2 separate regions of the Homo sapiens genome follow, and region 1 is linked to region 2. The links come from fine-mapping of genetic effects on gene expression. Tissue or cell type: whole blood. Region 2 holds a variant in brackets; the other region holds the start of a gene. All regions are shown on one strand. Distances are between the middles of the regions.

The links.
Region 1: ANXA2R starts here. The variant in region 2 is fine-mapped to the expression of ANXA2R in whole blood (INTERVAL, PIP 0.96).

What each region holds. Positions count from the first base shown.
Region 1 is chr5:43,036,940-43,046,863 of GRCh38, reverse strand. It overlaps ANXA2R (annexin A2 receptor), which reads left to right and starts at 6,545. Exons shown (of 1, transcript NM_001014279.3): 1 at 6,545-7,493. The coding sequence starts at 6,818. The coding sequence ends at 7,399. The region is part of intron 2 of ANXA2R-OT1 (ANXA2R overlapping transcript 1); the gene reads left to right. It overlaps ANXA2R-AS1 (ANXA2R antisense RNA 1), which reads right to left and starts at 4,730. Exons shown (of 2, transcript NR_015447.1): 1 at 3,297-4,730; 2 at 1,596-2,421. RefSeq lists enhancers at 2,048-2,547, 3,267-3,316, 3,124-3,659, 3,687-3,886, 3,967-4,176 and 7 more and a silencer at 6,282-6,551.
Region 2 is chr5:43,015,510-43,025,734 of GRCh38, reverse strand. The region is part of intron 2 of ANXA2R-OT1 (ANXA2R overlapping transcript 1); the gene reads left to right. LOC105374748 (a long non-coding RNA gene) reads right to left here and starts at 7,590. Exons shown (of 3, transcript NR_188279.1): 1 at 7,063-7,590; 2 at 6,419-6,499; 3 at 1-1,536. RefSeq lists enhancers at 5,305-5,354, 7,422-7,561, 7,101-7,623, 8,022-8,261, 10,048-10,097. The variant A/TGTCAGAAAAATGTGTTGA (reference allele first, on the strand shown) is at 5,773.

The DNA.
Region 1 (9,924 bases), 21 kb before region 2:
GTTGATTTCTTAACATTGAATGCTAAAATTACATTTATCTATTCAGCCACAGACAGAGCTATATGCACTCCAACTTCCCTAAGTGAGGCTGTGCATCTACAAAATGGAGAGAACTAAGAAGAAAGCCCAGCACAAAGCATGTGCTCACCACATTTTTCGGTTGAGAATGAAACAAGATAAAGCACAAAATATAGTTGGTATGGTGTCTGTCACAAATAATGATTTTCATGCCACAAACCACACAATATGTGAGAAGAACTAAAAGGGGAGGCAAGAAGCTGAAAGTGTTTATGAGAAATTGCACCTTACAGATACTGGAGGAGTGGGGAAGATGATTTTCCCACTTACCCAACCATTTCAGTGTATTGAGCTATGAAAAAAACAAATACAATCAAAAAATAGGTTTCAAAAAATTACAACTTGGCTTGGCATGGTGGCTCATGCCTGTAATCCTGGCACTTTGGGAGGCCGAGGTGGGTGGATCACATGAGATCAGGAGTTCAAGGCTAGCCTGGCCAACATGGTGAAACCCCGTTTCTTCTAAAAATACAAAAATTACCCGGGTGTTGTGGCAGGAGCCAGTGGTCCCAGCTACTCTGGAGGCTGAGGCACAAGAATGGCTTGAACCTCGGAAGCAGAGGTTACAGTGAACTGAGATCGTGCCACTGCATTCCAGCCTGGGTGACAGAGCAAGATTCTGTCTCAAAAATAAATAAATAAGTGAACAAAATAAAAATAATTTAAAAAATAAAGAATTACAACTCTAATCTCTATGCTATTTTCAAGACATAAACAAACTAAAAAATGGCACTAAAGATTGAAAATAAAGGAGTGGATACCTGAATTTAATCAGTTCTAGGGTAAACATTTTTCTCATTTAGTATCTCTGAAATATGTATATATTTTTAAATGGGTGGCCTCTTACCATTGGGACACAGTATAATTTGCAGCATTTTCCTCTGTTAATGGTATATGTAATAATGTCTCAGGTGACCCCTTCTTACAGAGCTTGTAATCCCAGTTATGTTATTTTTTATTTTATTTTATTTTCTGAGACAACGTCTCCCTCTGTCACCCAGACTGAACTGCAGTGATGCGGTCCCAGATCACCATTCACTGCAGCCTGCATCTCTAGGGCTCAAGAGATCCTCCCACTTCGGCTTCCCGAGTAGCTGGGACTACAGGCACTCGAGACCAAATCCGACTAATTTTTCAATTTTTTTTTTCTTTTTTTGGTAGAGGCAGGATCTCACTTTGTGCTTAGGGTGGTATTGAACTTCTGGGCTAAAGAGATACTCCTGACTTAGCCTCCCAAAGTGCTAGGATTATAGCAGGGAGCTACTGCTCTGGGTCAGCTTTTCTGCTAAAATGCTTTGCTGAGGTGGAAATGAGGAGGGTGAAGCAGTGGGCGGGCATTTGTTTTACAAAGGCTCTACCTAGGCTGTACCATCTGGTGAAGTGCTTGTAACTTTTAAGGTGGAAACGATGCCATTTTTCCTTTATTCTCCCGTCTGTAAGACCAGAAGGCAATTGGAGGATCCTCAAATACCAGGGAGAAACCAGGTAGCAGAAGAAGTAGTATGGTGGGAGGGGAAGATCAAAGCAAACGCCTGGGGAGTGAGTGACAATTGCGACCCCAAATTGGGTCTCCTGACTTGTCAAGGCCCTTCTCTGGGCTCCTCTGCACCTGTCCTCTGCCCAGGTTGATCCAGAAAAGGATGGAATTGGTTGCATGGTGTTTTCAGGATCCGATTGGGAGATGATGCGTTCGCGTGGGAACGCTCCTGGTAGGGTCTGTAAGCCTCTTAGGGGGATTACATCTGGATGTATAATTTTTTTTGGGAAATGTGAAAGCTTATGGGAAAAATACGTTTTACTTCCAAGCAGTGGCAGTTCCTTATTTCCTATGAGGAAGGAGTTTATAGCCCCACTCTTGACTGAAAAGTGTGAGAGACAATTCAAGCGCTTGAAAATTCACCTGTTTTGCATTTCCGGAAAGACAGAGAAAGCGTCAGTGATCCATTTCACAGATCAAGGGTATAGGAAAGTGGATGGCACTTTGAGATGTTCATTAGGTTTGGAGAGGGAGCAGACATCTGCCAGCAATCCCACCTCTTGTGCTGGAGTCTTGCAGTTCATTTTTCTCTCCTGCCCTCTTCCAAATCCTATGTCCAATATCAAGGATATCTGACAGTTAACCATCAGAATCAACGAGCGTTCCCACAGAGTTCCGTCCTGCAGGAGAGGTACCGGGACAGGGGCGGGAGACCTGAAGCTGCGATCAGAAAACGCTGTGCCTTTTACGCTCCTAAGGAACCTTAGACCGAGAGTTTCAAGTTTCAAAGGCAAGCAGTTGTTGGCCCCTCCTGTAGGATCCTGTGGGCTCTGGACCGGGAAGAGAGCCTGGCAGCGAGGGGTGACCTGGAAAAGCCCAGTCACAGAGGGTGGATGGCTGTTTCCTGCGTAGGAAGCTGTTGGCGACCAGAATGGTTTATACTTTGTTCCTGGGACCAACAGGATCTGCTTGGTTCTCGGCGCATAAGCCCACTACTCTCCCCCTGCGTAATGCACTGGGTGGAATGCAAGAACAATACAGACTTCCTGCGGGCCTCGGTGGCCCACGCCTGTGATCCCAGCACTTTGGGAGGCCCAGGCGGGCGAATCGCTTGAGCTCAGGAGTTCGAGACCAGCCTGGGCAACATAGCGAGACCGCCGTCACTAATATATATATATTTATATATATATATTTCATATATAATATATATTTTATATATAATATATATTTTATATATAATATATATTTTATATATAATATATATTTTATATTTTATATACTATATAAAATATATTATATATAATATATTATATATAATATATTATATATCTTATATATTATATATTATATATAATATATTTTATATATTATATACTATATTTTATATATTTTATATATTATATATAATATATTATATATTATATATTATATATAATATATTATATATATTATATATAATATATAATATATAATATATTATATATATTATATATAATATATTTTATATATAATATATATATTATATATTATATATATATTATATAATATATATATTATATAATATATATATTATATATAATATATAAATAAATATATATTTATATATTTTATATAATATATAAAAATATATATTTATATTTATATATTTATTTATATTATATATAAATATAAAATATATATTTTAATATATATATTTATATATATAAATATATATAAATTAGACGGGGGTGGTAGCACTCACCTGTGGTCTCGGCTACTCTAGAGGCTGAAGCGGGAGGATCGCTGGATCCCAGGAAGTCGAGGCTGCACTGAGCCAAGATGACACCACTGCACCAGCCTAGGCGACAGAGGAAAAAAGAAAAGAAAAAGACATCAGACTTCCCTAAGCCCGTGGGGGACAGAGTGGGTAGAGCCAGTAGCACTTTGGTGGCACCGAGCGCGCAGTTGGTCGGTCGCTGCACCGTTCCTTTCCCAGCGCCGGCTGTTTCTCACTGGCAACGCCACGCCTTTGTCAGCGTTATCGGACGCTCTCTGGCGGCAACCTTCTCACGGCCAAAAATTATCTTTTGCAACTGCACAGACATTTGCTACGGGCAGCTGATCGCTGGGTCCCAGCGCCGCTGGTTTCACAATTTCGCGGGTGCCCCCCACCATCCCCAGCCCGCAGCATAATCGGTGAAGGGAGCCTGCGGTTTCTCCGCCGCGCCTTCGCCCGTTGCGTCCTGCGAAGCCAGTGGAATCGGTGGTCACAAGGTTGGTTTCACCAAGTCGGGCGTTTCTTGGCACTGGCACCGCTCTGCGCTTTTGCTGGCCCAGGCCGGTCTCAGCACCGTTAGGTGCTCTCTAAAGGCGACTGTCTGTCGTGGTTAGGAAAGCTGCTATGGGACGACAGTTTTTTAGAAGTTTCTAGTCTAGCCCAGCTGGCGGTTTCTGGATCGCAGAACCACTGATTGCGCGGAGCTGGATGTACTTCTGTGGCCGCGCATGTTTCTCTGTGGTATCCCTACGGCTGTCGTCGAAATCGCGGTGTTTCTCTGGCCCCACCGCCACGTGGGCAACTTCTTCAGTGGCTGCGGGGTTCTCTCCACTGAGTTGCTGGTTTTGATCCACGCTTTCTCCCAGAGAGCAGACGAGACACTTTTCTGTTTGTGTCAACTGCTAGTCGTGCTGTGCACAGTTTCCTCGTCTCGGTGCGGGGCTTTCTCCATCCGAGGCCCTCTAGTGCCGGCTTCGCGGTCGCAGCACCCGGCGTTTCCGTTGGCTCTTTCGCCAGCGGCGCGAAGCCGGCGGTTTTGCTGTCACAGCACTTGCTGCACGGAGTTTCTCGGTAGCCGAACTTCTCTTTTTTTCTCAGAGTCGACGGTTTCTTGGTGACGGCACCGCTGGTTGCGCCAAAACAAATGTTGTCCTTGACAACCCCGCCGGCTGCATTCCCTTTCAGGCTCCTGGCACCGCCATTTCGGCGAGCCGTGGTCTCTTGTTCACAGCTCTGTGCCTCCATTTCTCGGTGGCGGCAGCCCTCAGGCCGCGGATCTGAGAGATTTAAAGTCGCAGCTGCCCCCGTTGCGCCGAGTCTGGCGTTGCCGGATGGGTGCTGCAGGGCTGGGCGGGGGGAGCCCGACGCTCCTTGGAGCCGGTGACAGGGGAGCTGCAGGGGCACAGTCTCTTCCCAGCGCCGCCGCACGGGTTCCGGCTCGGCCTCCAGAACGCAGTCCTGTGGCGGCGCCGCCGGCGTCTCTGTCGCAGGACCCCACGGTTTCGCGCGTCGTTGGCTTCTTAGTCCTAGCAAGTTTCGATTTCGCGGTGCCTGGGATTTCCACCCTCTGTCCAAGTAGGGGAATAGCCAAAATGTATTTTCTCAGCCCAAGCAAGTCCTGACTTAAGACAAACACCGGTCTAGCCCTGGCTGCGATATCTAGGCCGTAGGAACTCACCCGTTTCCCCATGCGAAGGCGAAGTTACCCTGTGACTCGTTGGTCAGCAGCTCCGGGTTTCCAGTGGCCTCGGATTTCTAATCATAACAACCATGGGGTCAGCCTAGCCTCAAGTTTCTTAGTCCTAGCAAGTTCCGGTTTCCTACTGGTAAGACTTGCTTTAGCTGCGCAGGAAATGTTTAACTCCTGTGGAAATCTGGGTACCAGCGAATGCTTTTTTTTTTTTTTTAAAGGTTTAGCGATGACCAGTTTAGCAGTGTTGGGAGCTCTTATACCAAGTTTGGTTTCGCAATATCGAGTCCTGTCTTAGCTATGCTTGTGTGTTTTTAAAACTCCCGTGGAAGTCAGGAAATGCCGGCGATCGCGATGTCTCAGTTTTACCAAGCTCCCTTTGACAATAGCAAGTCCTGCCCATCGAGACTTTTTCCTCTTGTAGACCAAATCGGGATGTACCAGCTACTACGATTTTTTAGACGTAGCTAAACACGTTTAACCGTGGATATTTTTGTTTTTTTTCTCGTAGGAAATTATGACAGGAGCAACCTGCAGGGGTTTAGATCTGACAGAAATATTCTAATGGTAGGCATTGCATCGCTTAGCCATATTTGTAATTTCTTCTTTGTAGGGTTGGTTCTCTGTAACTTTTGCTTACCTTAAAATTATTTTTGTGTCTTGCTCTGAGGACAATGTTACCGATGTGTTTTTCATTTTTACTTGCATTTCAGACTTTCATTATTTTAAATTATGTATTTTTTTTTTCTTCTAATTTTGAGCGTCTCAGATTCGTGCTTCTTGACTTTCATTCTCTCAGGAGCCGGGGAGCCGAGCTCGGTCTTAGCCTCGCTGGTATCAGGTTCCGGGTTCTGTCTGGAGGCTCCGCTTCCTATGCAGAGCTGGCGGTTTTGTATCAGCACGTTTGCCAGTGGCGCCCACTGGGCGTTTTCTCAGTTGCTGCACCCAACGTGACATTTCCCGTTCGCGGGGTCCTTAGGTTCTCAGTGCTGTCACTTTTTCGCTCCTACAACCGCTAGTATCTCCTAGGAACTTCCTGAACCCCGTTTTGCCGTGCAGAACGGTGATTGCACCGAGCCGCTGTTCGCACTAGTAATTGTGTGGTACCATTAGCCGGCGCTTTTTCTGTCACAACCCATTAAAACGGGTTAAAACATATTAAACCTATCAAACACATTGAACGGATTAAAACACATTAAATGCCGCAACACATTTTTCTGGTACAACACATTGAAACAGAGTTGGTTCATTCCTCCAAACAGGTTGTTTAGGTGTGGAAGCACCGCTCTTAGTTCTAAGAGCATGCTGTTTCTCTTTAGCAGCACCCTTTACGGCGCCAAAACGGATATTTGTTTGGCAATACCAGCGCTATCCGCTAGGTGCCGGCGCTTGCTAAGTTCAACGCGCCAGTTTCTCGTTTGCAAGGTGGTTAGGGCAGAGCCCTAGCAGACAGTTTTCCGGTGGCAGCAACGCTCATTTCCCGGAAACGGGTGGTTCTTGGCCCTTGCGCGCTCTTGAATACCTGCGTTCTGTAGCGCTAGTTCTCTTCAAGATTTGCTTAGTGTCATTTCATTTCGGTTTCTTTTCTCGCCATGTTTTTCTGTCGGAATTACGGTTCGTTTTGGTTCTATGTACTCTCTAAAATGTTATCGTTTTTCATTTGTCTACTAATTTTCGTGCATTTGTTACTACTGAGTTTCTTAATATCTGACTGGCCTCCGCCCACGGGCTCTGCAGAGCATAAATACTCAGGCTGATGGTAGTGCAGAGACTCTCCCTCCTTGATCAGCGCAAACGTTGGTCTGAGGCTTGAGGGATGGAGCAACATTTTCTTGGCTGTGTGAAGCGGGCTTGGGATTCCGCAGAGGTGGCGCCAGAGCCCCAGCCTCCACCTATTGTGAGTTCAGAAGATCGTGGGCCGTGGCCTCTTCCTTTGTATCCAGTACTAGGAGAGTACTCACTGGACAGCTGTGATTTGGGACTGCTTTCCAGCCCTTGCTGGCGGCTGCCCGGAGTCTACTGGCAAAACGGACTCTCTCCTGGAGTCCAGAGCACCTTGGAACCAAGTACAGCGAAGCCCACTGAGTTCAGTTGGCCGGGGACACAGAAGCAGCAAGAGGCACCCGTAGAAGAGGTGGGGCAGGCAGAGGAACCCGACAGACTCAGGCTCCAGCAGCTTCCCTGGAGCAGTCCTCTCCATCCCTGGGACAGACAGCAGGACACCGAGGTCTGTGACAGCGGGTGCCTTTTGGAACGCCGCCATCCTCCTGCCCTCCAGCCGTGGCGCCACCTCCCGGGTTTCTCAGACTGCCTGGAGTGGATTCTTCGCGTTGGTTTTGCCGCGTTCTCTGTACTCTGGGCGTGCTGTTCACGGATCTGTGGAGCTAAGCAGCCTTAGATAGCAGCAGAAGGCTTTTTGGATTCTCCTCCTTGAAAAGATTCTCAGTTACCAAACGTCTCCACCTAGAAAATAAAAATACATTAAGATGTGCTTTCATTGCTGGTTGTCAGTTTTTAAATTCTCTTTTTCCCTTATGTTTCTTTCTTGTTTCGCGTCGCTTATTACTTTCAGTTTCCTTGTATTTTAAATATTTGTATTTATTTCATTAAATATTTCATTCGTATCTGTTTTCACTTTGAGAAATCTATTTTACGATTGTAGAATTCTTAGAGTTTTTGGCAAATTTAAAATTTGTTTTTTTCCATTGTATTTTAAAATCTTATTCCTACTATTTTTCTAATTATTGCTTTTTAAATGTATTGTTTGTTTACATTTAATTTTATATCATGTCTTTTACGTTATTATAACGTCTTTTTAATTTTAATTGTTAATTTTATTTTTAACAGCGGTCTTTCTTTTTTTCAGTATATCGATTCATTGTTTTACACTCAGGAATTTTATTCACGATCATAAGACTGAGAGGTTTATCAATCTTTGCTATTTCTCGTGGAAGGACCACGCAATTACTTATATTAATACAACTTCACAGATGACCAGTTCTTAAGATTACTTATTCTGGCGGGGCAGCGTGGCTCACGGCAGTAATCCCAGCACTTTCAGCAGCGGAGGCATGCGGATTGCTTGAGCTCAGGAGTTTGAGAAAAGCCTGGGCGACAGGGTGAGGCCTGTGTCTACAAAAAATGCAAAAGTTAGCCCTGTGAGATGGTGTGCACCTGTAGTCCCAGCTGCTCCGGAGGCTGGGGTGGGCGGGTTGCTTGAGCTCAGGAGGTCGAGGCTGCGGTGAGCCGGATAGCACCAACGCCCTCCAGCAGAGCGAGAGCCTGTCTCAAAATAAATAAATAATTGAAAAGACTACTTATTCATGGGTCTCAGGGCTAGCAGTGTTTCCAGCGTCTTTTTCTTTGGAACAGTTTAGCTTGGCTTATAAGAGAACTACCAGTTACTTAATGGTACCACAACTGGGTTTAGCAATTCGGGTAGGCACAGCAGGTCCGGCTTGGCCCTGCCTGCTTTGACTGCCTTTTCGGGAGTTTTAAACCTCCTACACTCGGAATGTAGCCCTGATTGTGGTTTCTCTGCATAGCAAGTTCGGACTTAAGCGGAATAAGTATCGGCTTATTTCGCCTGCGATAAAGATGCTTAATTCTGCGTTCGAAATATTCTGAGCGAGTCCTGGGTTAGGGATTTCTTAGAGTAACAAGTGCATGCTTCGATTTTAAGTGCCCCTGTGAATGTGATTTCTTAGCTCTTGCAAGTCCATATTTGGTCGCAACCAGTACTAGCATAGCCATGCCTGCGACTCCTTAGTCCCAGTAACTTTCGGTTTCATAATAACTTACCCTGCTTTACTTATGCCTGAGTTTTAAATATAGAAGTCCGGGCACGTAGGTGAAGAAGATATTTTAGGAGTAGCAAGTAGCGGTTTAGCAGTGTCTGCAGTCCCTTAGTTAGAAGTCCTGGTGAGACCGAGCAGATACTGATATAGGCCTGACAGCGATATTACCTCTGTGAAACCACATTGTTTAGAAGTGTTTGCATTTTCTTCTTTGTAGAGTCCATTTTTCCATGTTTTGCTTAGTTTTGAATTTTCATTTGATGAATCTTCCCAAATGTATTGTTTTTATTGTGTGTGCGTGTGTTTTTCAGCTAACTTGCCCTTTAAAAAAAAATTGTTCCTAATTTTTGTTTTGCTGACCCTCAGCTTTATGCTGTCTGGTTTGCGCTGGCCTGTAATTCCCGGAACTAAATATTCTATTCTTTTGGCCTAACTGGCCTTTCGTCGATGGCATTACTGCTAGTTTTGCCGCTCTAGGTGCTCCTCGGTGTTAGCACTGCCGGTTGCTTCTGTGAGGCTTGCTAGAGCCCAGGACGCTGAGGTGCTGGGTGACCCCGTTTCGGTGCAACCACTCCGAAGGTTCTCGGTTTATCCAGCTGTGTTTTGGAACAAATGCCAATTCTTCCTGGGAGCAAGTGTCTTTCAGTCGCGTTCCTGGCTGTTTTCTTCAAAAGCAGGCGTTTCTCCTGGTAGCACCGCTTGTTGGCGACGTCGGATTCTTTTCCGTGGCAGTACTGGTCGTTTCATGGAGTGGCCGGTTTCTCACTCGCACTGTGCCGGCTGGCAGTTATTCCGTGGAGGCGCAGCTCTCAGCCGCTTCCCTTGGTTCTCGGTGTCGGCTGTCCCTGTACCTGCGTTTGTGGCGGTATTTCTGTCACAATCGAGTCTGTGTTTTTTCGATGACAACGCCATTCATTTCTCTAAAACAGGCTATGTTTGGAATTGGCAATTTTTCTTTGTCAGAGTCCTTGGTTTCGCAGAGCCTGTTGTTCCAGGTTACTGGACTGCTGTTTGCTCCGTGCTAGCAATGTTGCACCCAGTACCGTTAGGTGCTCCCTGTTGGAGTTTTGAGACAGCGTTTTGAGATAGGTGCACCAGCACTCCAGACCTGGCACCTGAAGAAAGC
Region 2 (10,225 bases):
TAGGATCTGTGATGCCCCACAAGCCACCGAAACCAGCAGGTTTTTTTAGGGATTTTCAAAAGGGGAGGGAGTGTGCGAATAGGTGTGGGTGACAGACATCAAGTACTTAACAGGGTAATAGAATATCACAAGGCAAGTGGAGGCAGGGCGAGATCACAGGACCACAGGACCGAAACGAAATTAAAATTGCTAATGAAGTTTTGGCACCATTGTCACTGATATTATCTTATCAGGAGACAGGGTTTTGAGATCAACTGGTCTGACCAAAGTTTATTAGGCGGGAATTTCCTCTTCCTAATAAGCCTGGGAGCGCTATGGGAAACTGGAGTTTATTTCACCTCTGCAATCTCGACCATAAGAGACAGGTACGCCCCGGGGCGGCCAGTTCAGAGACCTACCCCTAGGTGCGCATTCTCTTTCTCAGGGACGGAATTCAGCGATATTTCTCCCATTTGCTTTTGAAAGAAGAGAAATATGGCTCTGTTCTGCCCGGCTCACCGGCGGTCAGAGTTTAAGGTTATCTCTCTTATTCCCTGAACAATTGCTGTTACCCTGTTCTTTTTTCAGGGTGCCCACATTTCATATTGCTCAAACACACATGCTGTACAATTTGTGTACTTAACGCAATTATTACAGGGTCCTGAGATGATATACATCCTCCTCAACTGACAAGATTAAGAGATTAAAGTAAAGACAGGCATAGGAAATCACAAGGGTATTGATTGGGGAAGTGATAAGTGTCCATGAAATCTTTACAATTTATGTTTAGAGATTGCAGTAAAGACAGGCATAAGAAATTACAAAAGTATTAATTTGGGGAGCTAATAAATGTCCATAAAATCTTCATAATCCACGTTCTTCTTTCATGGCTTCAGCCGGTCCCTCCGTTTGGGGTCCCTGACTTCCCACAACAGGTCATTGTAAAAAATAAGTCATTCATTTAGTTAAGCAGTAACTCAAAGTTTTCAAAAACTAAAAGCCAAAACCTTTCACTCTTTGAGACTTGCTTTCCCAAACAATAAGAGCTAATAAAGACAGCATGAAGCCAATCAAATCTTTCTCAGATATTATAGACAAATCTAATAAATTTTAATCATCTTGACCATAAGATACAACTTTTGTAAACCTTTTCATAATCTTTCATAATTTTTTTAATAAGAATGGGTTAATGATCCATGAAAACATTGTTAATCTTACATGGGGTCCCACATGCTGGTCTTGCATCAGTGTTCCTTAGATATTCACGTTTACTTTATAGGCTGGCTGTGGTGGCTCGCACCTGTAAACTCAGCACTTTGGGCGGTCTAGGCAGGCAGACTGCTTGAGCTCAGGAGTTTGAGACCAGCCTGGGCAACATGGCGAAACACGGTGTCTACAAAAAATACAAAAATTAGCCATGCGTGTTGGTGCACATCTATAGTCCCAGCTTCTTAGGAGGCTGAGGTGGTAGGATCACTTGAGCCTGGGAGGTGGAGGTTGCAGTGAGCTAGGACTATGCCACTGTACTCCAGCCTGGGTGACAGATCTAGACCTTATCTGGAAAAAAAAAAAAAACTCTTTAAATTAAATTATCTATAAATTATACAGAAACTGAACTAATTTTATCTGTTAAAATAGGTCCTTACAAGCTTACACACCCACTTCTTCTTCAATAGTCCCTGGGACTAGAGGGTTTGAATAGTCTTAATTTCTGGCGCCATGTCTCATGACTGCAGCTTATTCTGATTTTCATCTTCTCCTAGATCTGAAGATGAGGCTTCAATTGCTCTCAATTTAGCGGGAGTTAGTGACCTTTTTAGACTCAGGAGTCAAAGCCCTGAAAATTAGTAGCACAAGAACTTTAAAAGAAATACAGAAAGTTACATGGATATAATAACCTTAATTAACCTTAATTTTTTTAAATCTCAGTTTTCTTTTCTTTTTCTTTTCTTTTTTTTTGAGACAGAGTCGCACACTGTCACCCAGGCTGGTATGCAGTGGCTCGATCTTGGCTTACTGCAACCTTCGCCTCCCAGGTTCAAGTGATTCTCTTGCCTCAGCCTCCCTAGTAGCTAGGATTACAGGCACCCGCCACCACTTCTGGCTAATTTTTTGTATTTTTAGTAGAGCTGGGTTTCACTGTGTTGGCCAGGCTGGTCTTGAACTCCTGACCTCGTGATATGCCTGCCTCAGCCTCCTTAAATCTCAGTTTTTCTGAGCAAATAAAAACCTAGTAATGACATAGGAATTATTTTGATAAAATGTAAAATATGTTATTCTCAGGCTGGCTACCAAAAGGCAAAAAAGGATGTGCTTTTCCATATGGGATTCCATTTAGACAACCTTCAAGTCAAAACTAATGAAAAGGGCACTTGAATTAATTAGACATAGGAAGAGTGTGTCCCAGGACATAAGTGAAGTTTTTTGGTTTCATAGAACAATTTAGATATATTTTAAAAAGTCAAGAGCACAGAATGTTATATTGGAAGAATACATTTCGTTTTGATCCTAAAGATGAAGTGTTTTTTAGCATCAGACCACAACAACAGTTAAAACCTAAGGAAAAAAGTTACAGGAGCTGACAAAAAAGTTGAAGGGAAAGTTATTATCTCAGGCCTTAAAAAGGAGAGAGGCCTGGCGCAGTGGCTCAAGCCTGTAATCCCGGCACTTTGGGAGGCTGAGGCGGGCAGATCACGAAGTTAAGAGATGGAGACCACCCTGACCAACATGGTGAAACGCCATCTTTACTAAAAATACAAAAATTAGCTGGGCGTGGTGGTGTGCACCTGTAGTCCCAGCTACTTGGGAGGCTGAGGCAGGAGAATCGCTTGAACCTGGGAGGTGGAGGTTGCAGTGAGCCTAGATCTCACCACTGCACTCCAGCATGGTGACAGAGCAAGACTCCGTCTTAAAAAAAAGACAGAAAATAATAATAATAATAATAAATAAATAATAGAGAGAAAGCTGAAAACATTGAGATGCAATAAAAGTTGAAAATTTGGGTAAATTAAAATATAACTTATTAAGAGTAAATAATATTTTACAAAAATGTTGTTCTAACCAAGTCTTTTGAGTATTAATGTATTTTTTTGTATCAAAGCCCAATCTCTAGAAAGACTGTTGTAATTTCCTTTTATTTATAGCCAACTAGATAACATAATTTTTTTTTTTTTTGAGATGGAGTCTTGCTCTGTTGCCCAGGCTGGAGTGCAGTGGTGCGATATCAGCTCACTGCAAGCTCCACCTCCCAGGTTCACGCCATTCTCCTGCCTCAGCCTCCCAAGTAGCTGGGACTACAGGTGCCCACTACCACGCCCTGCTAATTTTTGTGTTTTTAGTAGAGACGGGGTTTCACCATGTTAGCTAGAATGGTCTCGATCTCCTGATCTCGTGATCCATCTTCTTGGCCTCCCAAAGTGCTGGGATTACAGGCGTGAGCCACTGTGCCTGGCCTAATTTTTGTATTTTTGTCAGAGACGGGGTTTCACCATATTGGCCAGACTGGTCTTGAACTCCTGATCTCAAATGATCTGCCCCCCTTAGCATCCCAAAATGCTGGGATTACAGACCACCACACCTGGCCTATCTCTCTCTCTTTTTTCTGGTTTCTTTTATCTTGTTTCACAAATAATCTGTGAATTAGACAAAACTATTTTCCTTTTAATAAGAACACTTTTTTTGGAAAAATGTTTTCCTACAATTTTTTAAAAATTGGACATGACCTGGACATTTAATGACTATTATTTAATTTAACTTTAAGATTCTAAATTGTATGTTTACTTATAAGCATTTATTCCATTACATTTACCTAACTAATTTATTTTTTAAAATAGTTTACCTAGATTACTTATAAAATCTGTGATATTAGACATAGCTAGCTATCATTTAAAGTCATGAAACCAGCTTTGCAAAATTTTAACAGTGAGAAAATATTGACAGTGACAGAGACCTGACCTAACGAACTCCATCTTGCCTTTAACCTCCAAACAGCCCTTGATCTGGGCATGGGCCAACCTAACTTAGGGAGAAATTTAGTTTATAGTTTATATGATAATAGCCCTTCCCAAAACTAAACCATCTTTGTAAAGCTGATGAAAGCCCACCAGGTTAGGAGGATGAGAAGGGCCTGATTTCTGCTAAGATGTGGGCATAGTTAAAGGATTACCAGCCTTTATTCCAGAGGTCACAAGATTTGCAACTTCCCTAATTACTAGAACCTAGGTTTGGCTTTTTGAGATGACTTTTCAGACTTTGATGGCCCCAACAGCATCAGCCACTCCTCTGTGGCCGCCACTCAAGAAATGGACTGAGTGCAGGAGGACTGTTTTCCACACCCCTGTGATTGTTCCTCAGCTGAGCAGCAGCACCCTTCTGCCAAACTATCCTTGAAAAACCTTGGCTTCTGAATTTTCTGGGAGGCTGATTTGAGTAATAATAAAATTCAGGTCTCCAATTTAGCCAACTCTGCCCATATTAAACTCTTTATTGCAATTCGCTGTCTTGACAAATCAACTCTATCTGGGCAACAGGCAAAATGAACATATGGGCCAGTTACAGTTATGTCCCTGTCAACCATTATTATAGACTGTGAATATCAGGTGTTTACCTAAGTAAGAACCTTAAGGTTAAATAAATGGATTTTTCTCTTCTGTCAGTAACCCAAGATTTAGCTGTTTTCTTTAAACCAATGATATTAAATGCCTTATTTACCAAAATTACATGAACAAAGATAATTCTGTTTGGGGTTGCATTTATAGATTTATAACCTTCATGCCAAATTTTCACGCCTTATAATATCTAGCAGAGATAAATCAGAAACCGCTGACCAATAAATCTAAACAATAATGTATATTGACAATTCTGAAGACATTTCTAATTTTATTTTACTGATAATTTTAAATGCAGCTTATTTGTCAAAGATTTACTTAAATCAAGTGAACCTGAAAAATCATTTGGGCTTAAAGTTTCTATTTTTCTGATAAAGTATTTAATTGAAGCCACTAACAAGGGCTGGAAAGCAGTCCCAAATTACAGCTGTCCAATGAGTACTCTCCCAGTACTGGATAAAAAGGGAGAGGCCACCGCCCACAACCTTCTGAACCCAGAGCAGGTGGAGGCTGGGGCTTTGGCGCCACCTCTGCGGAATCCCAAGCCCCCTTCGCACAGCCAAGAAAACGTTGCTCCATCGCTTAAGCCTTAGAGCAGGACACAAGCGTTTGTGCTGATCAACGAGGCAGAGCCTTCAGCACTCCCATTAGCCTGGACATTTATGCTTTCCGGAGGCCGTGGGCGGAGGCAAGCCAGGTATTATGAAACTCAATAGTAATGAATGCACAAAAATTAGTAGTCAAAAGAAAAACGATAACATTTTAGAGATTACATAGAACCAAAACAAACTGTAATTCCGACAGATAAACATAGCAAGAAAAGAAACCGAAATAAAACAGACACTAAGCAAACCTTGCAGAGAACTAGCTTTACAGATCGCAGCGCTTCAAGGGCCACGAACCATCTGTTCCAGGAAATGAGCATTACTGCCACCTGAAAACTGTCCGCTAGGGCTCTGAGCTACTTAACGACCGAAAGAGAAACTGGCGGCGCTGGGACTCAGCAAGCGCCGGCACCTAGCGAATAGTGCTGGTGTTGCCAAAAAATACCTGTTTTGGTGCCATAAGTGGTGCTGCCAGAGAGAAACCGTGCTCTTGGGAAACAGCGGTGCTTCCACGCCTAAACATCCTCTTCGGAGGAATGAACCCACTCCGTTTAAATGTGTTGTGTCAGAAAAATGTGTTG[A/TGTCAGAAAAATGTGTTGA]GACATTTTAATGTTTTAATCCTCTTAATGTGTTTAATCCGCTTGCAGTATTTTAACCCGTTTTAATGTGTTGTGACAGAAAAAGCGCCAGCTAACGGTGCTATGAAATTACTAGTGCGTACAGCGGCTCCGTGCAATCACCGTTCTGCACAGTAAAACATGGTTTAGGAAGTTCTTTAGCAGATACTAGCGGTGCGAGAACCAAGAAAGTGACAGCACAGAGAACATAAGGACCTGGCGAATGGGAAACGTCACACTGGGCGCTAAGAACGGTGCCGTAACTGAGAAAACGCTAGTCGGCTCTACTGGCAAAAGCGCTGATGCAAAACCATCAGCTCCGCATACGAAGGAGAGCCACCAGACACAACCTGGCACCTGACAGCAGGGAGACTGAGACCGAGCTCGGCTCCCCGGATCCTGAGAGAATGTAAGTAAAGAAGCAGGAAGCTGAGACGCTCAAAATTAGTAGAAAAAAAATACATAACATTTAAATAAAATCAAAATTAAAAAAATAAAGGCTAAAATGCAAGTAAACATGGAAAGCAAACACATCGGTAACATCGTTCTCAGAGCAAAAGACAAAGAGAGAATTTAAAAATAAGCAAAAATTACAGAGAACCAATCCTAGAAAGAAGAAATTACAAACCTTGCTAAAAGATGCAATCCTACAATTGTGATATCTCTGTCAGATCTAAACCGGTACATGTTACACCTAAGTCTACATTTCCTACGAAAACAAAAACAAAAACAAACAACACCAACAAAAAAAAGCAGTCACGGTTAAACCTTTTTTACTACGACTTAAAAATCGCAGTAGCTGGTCTATTCAGACTTGGTCCACAAGAGGAAAAAGTCGCGTTCGGCAGGACTTGCTATTGCCAAACGGAGCTTGGTAACCAGAAATCGCGTTTGCGGACATTTCCTGACTTCCATGGGAGTTTAAAATACACACAAGCTTAGCTAAGGTGGGACTCAATATTGCGAAAACAAACTTGGTATAAGAGCTCCCAGGCACTGCTAAACTGATCATCGGTAAACCTAAAAAAAATCGCATTCGCGGGTACCCAGATTTCTTTTTCTTTTCTTTTTTTTTTTTTTTTTTTTTTTGAGTTGGAGTCTCGCTCTGTCGCCCAAGCTGGAGTGCAGTGGCGCGATCTCGGCTCACTGCAAGCTCCGCCTCCCGGATTCACGCCATTCTCCTGCCTCAGCCTCCCGAGGAGCTGGGACTACAGGGACCCGCCACCACGCCCGGCTAATTTTTTTGTATTTTTAGTAGAGACGGGGTTTCACCGTGTTAGCCAGGATGGTCTCGATCTCCTGACCTCCTGATCCGCCCGCCTCGGCCTCCCAAAGTGCTGGGATTACAGGCGTGAGCCACCGCGCCCGGCCGGTACTCCGAAGCCCTCAGATCGGCGACCTGGGCGCTGTAGGCACCGAGAAAATACAGGCACCGAGCCAGAAGCAGTGCCGCAACCAAGAGACCTCGGCTTGGCGAAATGGCGGCGTCTGGAGCCTGCGAGTGACGCCAGCTGGTGGGGCTGTCAAGGAGAACATTCGTTACGGCGCAACCAACGGTACTGTCACCAAGAAACCGTCGTCTCTGAGAAAAAAAGAGACGTTCGGCCGCCGAGAAACTCCGTACAAGTGCTGTGACAGAAAAACCGCCGGCTCCGCGCAGCGGCAAAAGAGCCAACGGGAACGCCGGGTGCTGCGACCATGACCCCGGCACTGGAGGACGTGGGATGGAGAATGGGACACACGGAGCGAGAAGGGAAACGTTTCGTGCAGACCAACTAGCGCCGCCGCCACCGGAAAACTGACTCGCCAGTGCTGCCAATGAAGTGCGTGTGAGAAACCGATGACTGGTGGGAGGAGCAGCGCTGGGCGCTGGACCCGCGAGTGTGAGAATCTGGCGGCGCTAGGACCCTTCAGGCGCGGGCACGAGGCGAAACCCAGCGCTGTTGCCAAAGACAAATGCGCGTTCTTTTGGGCGCCATCAGCGGTGCAGCCAGTGATCACTCCCAGGCTCTGAGAAACTAGAGATGTCAGCCACAAACCCTCCGTTCAGGGAAAGTTTGCGGCGCCGTGACGGATCGACTGGCACTGGGTGCAACATTGTCTTGTGGCCTAGAGACTAGAATATAAAAACAAAAACCAAATACAAAACTGCTGCTGGCATTACTCCTACTCTCCCCCCTCAAGTCAGTGGCTTCAGGCTTAAGAAAACCTGTATTTTTCTTGGCTGTGCCATAATCCGTAATTACCGAGGCCCCCAGCGACCCACCCAGTGTGATTCGCAGAGGGAAAGGAGCTGGAATAAGGACCGTGAATGGGGCGGATGTGGCTCGTCCTGGGAGAGAGCTAAAGCTTATGCTGGTCGCAAACAGCATTACATTGCAGGAAACTGCTCTTCCAATGGCCGTGGCTGGGTCCTTCCACACCATCCCTCTGCCCTAGACCTTTGTCCCCGTTCAGAGCCATCAGAGATTCTAGGAGAGCTGTCGACAACCGCATCTCTTCGGAACTTGGAAACTCTAGGTTCAAGATCTCCGTGGAGAATGAAAGGCACAGTCGCCTGACCCGGGCATCAGGCTTGCCCCGCACATCAAGTCCCTCCCCTACTGGATGGAACTCTGTGGCAATCGCTCCTTATTCTGATGGTTCACTCTGTCAGATATCCTCGATATTTGGGGATAGTAGTTCAAAAACAGCCGGGGAGGAAAATGGGCTGAAAGATTCCAGCGTTGGATGTAGAATTGACAGCGAGACATACACCTCCTCTCTAAGCCCAGAGAAAAGCTCAAGTTGTGGTTCTCTGTCTCTAGCAGCATGATCTTCAAAATGCATCATTGATTTCTATCTTCTGGGAAATGCAATGCAGGTGAACTTGTAAGTGCTCAAATCCTCCATCTCCTCACTTTTCAGACTGAGGCCTTTTTTTTTTTAAATCTGAGAAGAAATATGGGACTGCCACTGCTCAGTAGGAAAATGTCCTTTCCCACAAGCATTTATATTTTAATAAAAATCTGCACTTTGTGAGTTGAGCCCCCTCAAAGAGACCTACAAACCCTGCCACAAATATCTCCAACCACACTCATCATTTCCGATTTTCATCACTGCTGCTCCTGTGCAAACCAAACTATCCTTTCCCTGGGGCATCCTAGGTAGAGGCCATGCCAGGACAAAGGCAGAGATATGCCTGCCTGGTAAGGAAATCCATTTTGGCCTTGTAATTCTCACCCTCTCCCAAGATGTTTGCCTCAATATCTCCTTCCCACCTTACCCCGTCTTCAGCTAGCCAAAACATTCCCTGGTATTTGAGGCCCTTCCAATTTCCTCCTGGTTTTGTGGGTGGGAGAATAAAGAAAAAACTGCACTGTTCCCACCCACATAGTTACAGCCACTTTATCAAACGGAAGAGCAGTCTGGAGCCATTGCAAAACAAAATACCTGCCACAACTCCTCTCTTCTCATTTCGACTCCAGCTTTTCATCTTAGCAAAAAAGTTGCAATCAGCACCCCCTAGACGGAAGGAATATCCTGTCTTAATGGGAGTCCATAGGAGGCTGCAGGCTGCTCCCCTACAGAGACTAACATCAAGGTAGTTGCAGAATTCAGATTCTAATTACAGTGTGGTTGGAGGCGGGGTGGATTCCAGGGAGGTCAGGAAGAGGTAAAGTACAGAATTGAGCTCCTTGGGAGGAGGTCATAGGAACTTTGCAGTATGAAAATGGCTAGAGATTGGGTAGAATTGAGCAGGCTGGCAATGGCAGTTTTGTGTGGGTGGTAGGACCTAGGATTCAAACTTGAGGGCAAATTGTGGAGCACATACGACAAATGATGTAGAGCCTTTCCTATTTCCCTTCCTGCTGTGTCATCCGAAACAATAAATAATAAAGAATTAACAAAGACTGATATTTTTGTTCAATTTCATGAAGAAAAATCTCATCAAACTAAGATAACTATAATGACAAATCTTGTTAGAATATTATTAACCAAATGAAAGTGACACAAAACAGAAAAACGGTGGGAGGTGGGAGGGCCAAGAAAGAAAAAGTCCCCAACACTCAGGTGGTGTGTACAGGTGAATCTTCTGGTCAGTTGGTATGTTGCAGAAAGCTGGGCAACTAATAAATTAGGAGGCAGGAATTCATATGAATACTTTCCTGATACAGAGAAACTCTTGGTTTTAACAATCTACTTCTTTGTCAGGTATTGGTTCTTGATTTTAGGCTCAGAAAAGATGGTAACAGTTATAACTGTAGTAGAGCAGGTAAAAACAAAGATCATGCAGGAGTCTAGACAGAAAGTAAAAGGCAAAAATGTCCCAGGGTAAGTAATCTAGAGTAAGAAAGTGAAGAATTCTGCTTGGTGCCAACGGAGGGCTCCACCATGCCTCTGGTTCACCTACAAAAAATGAACCATTTGCTGTTGGTCTCTGGGATTGAAGATT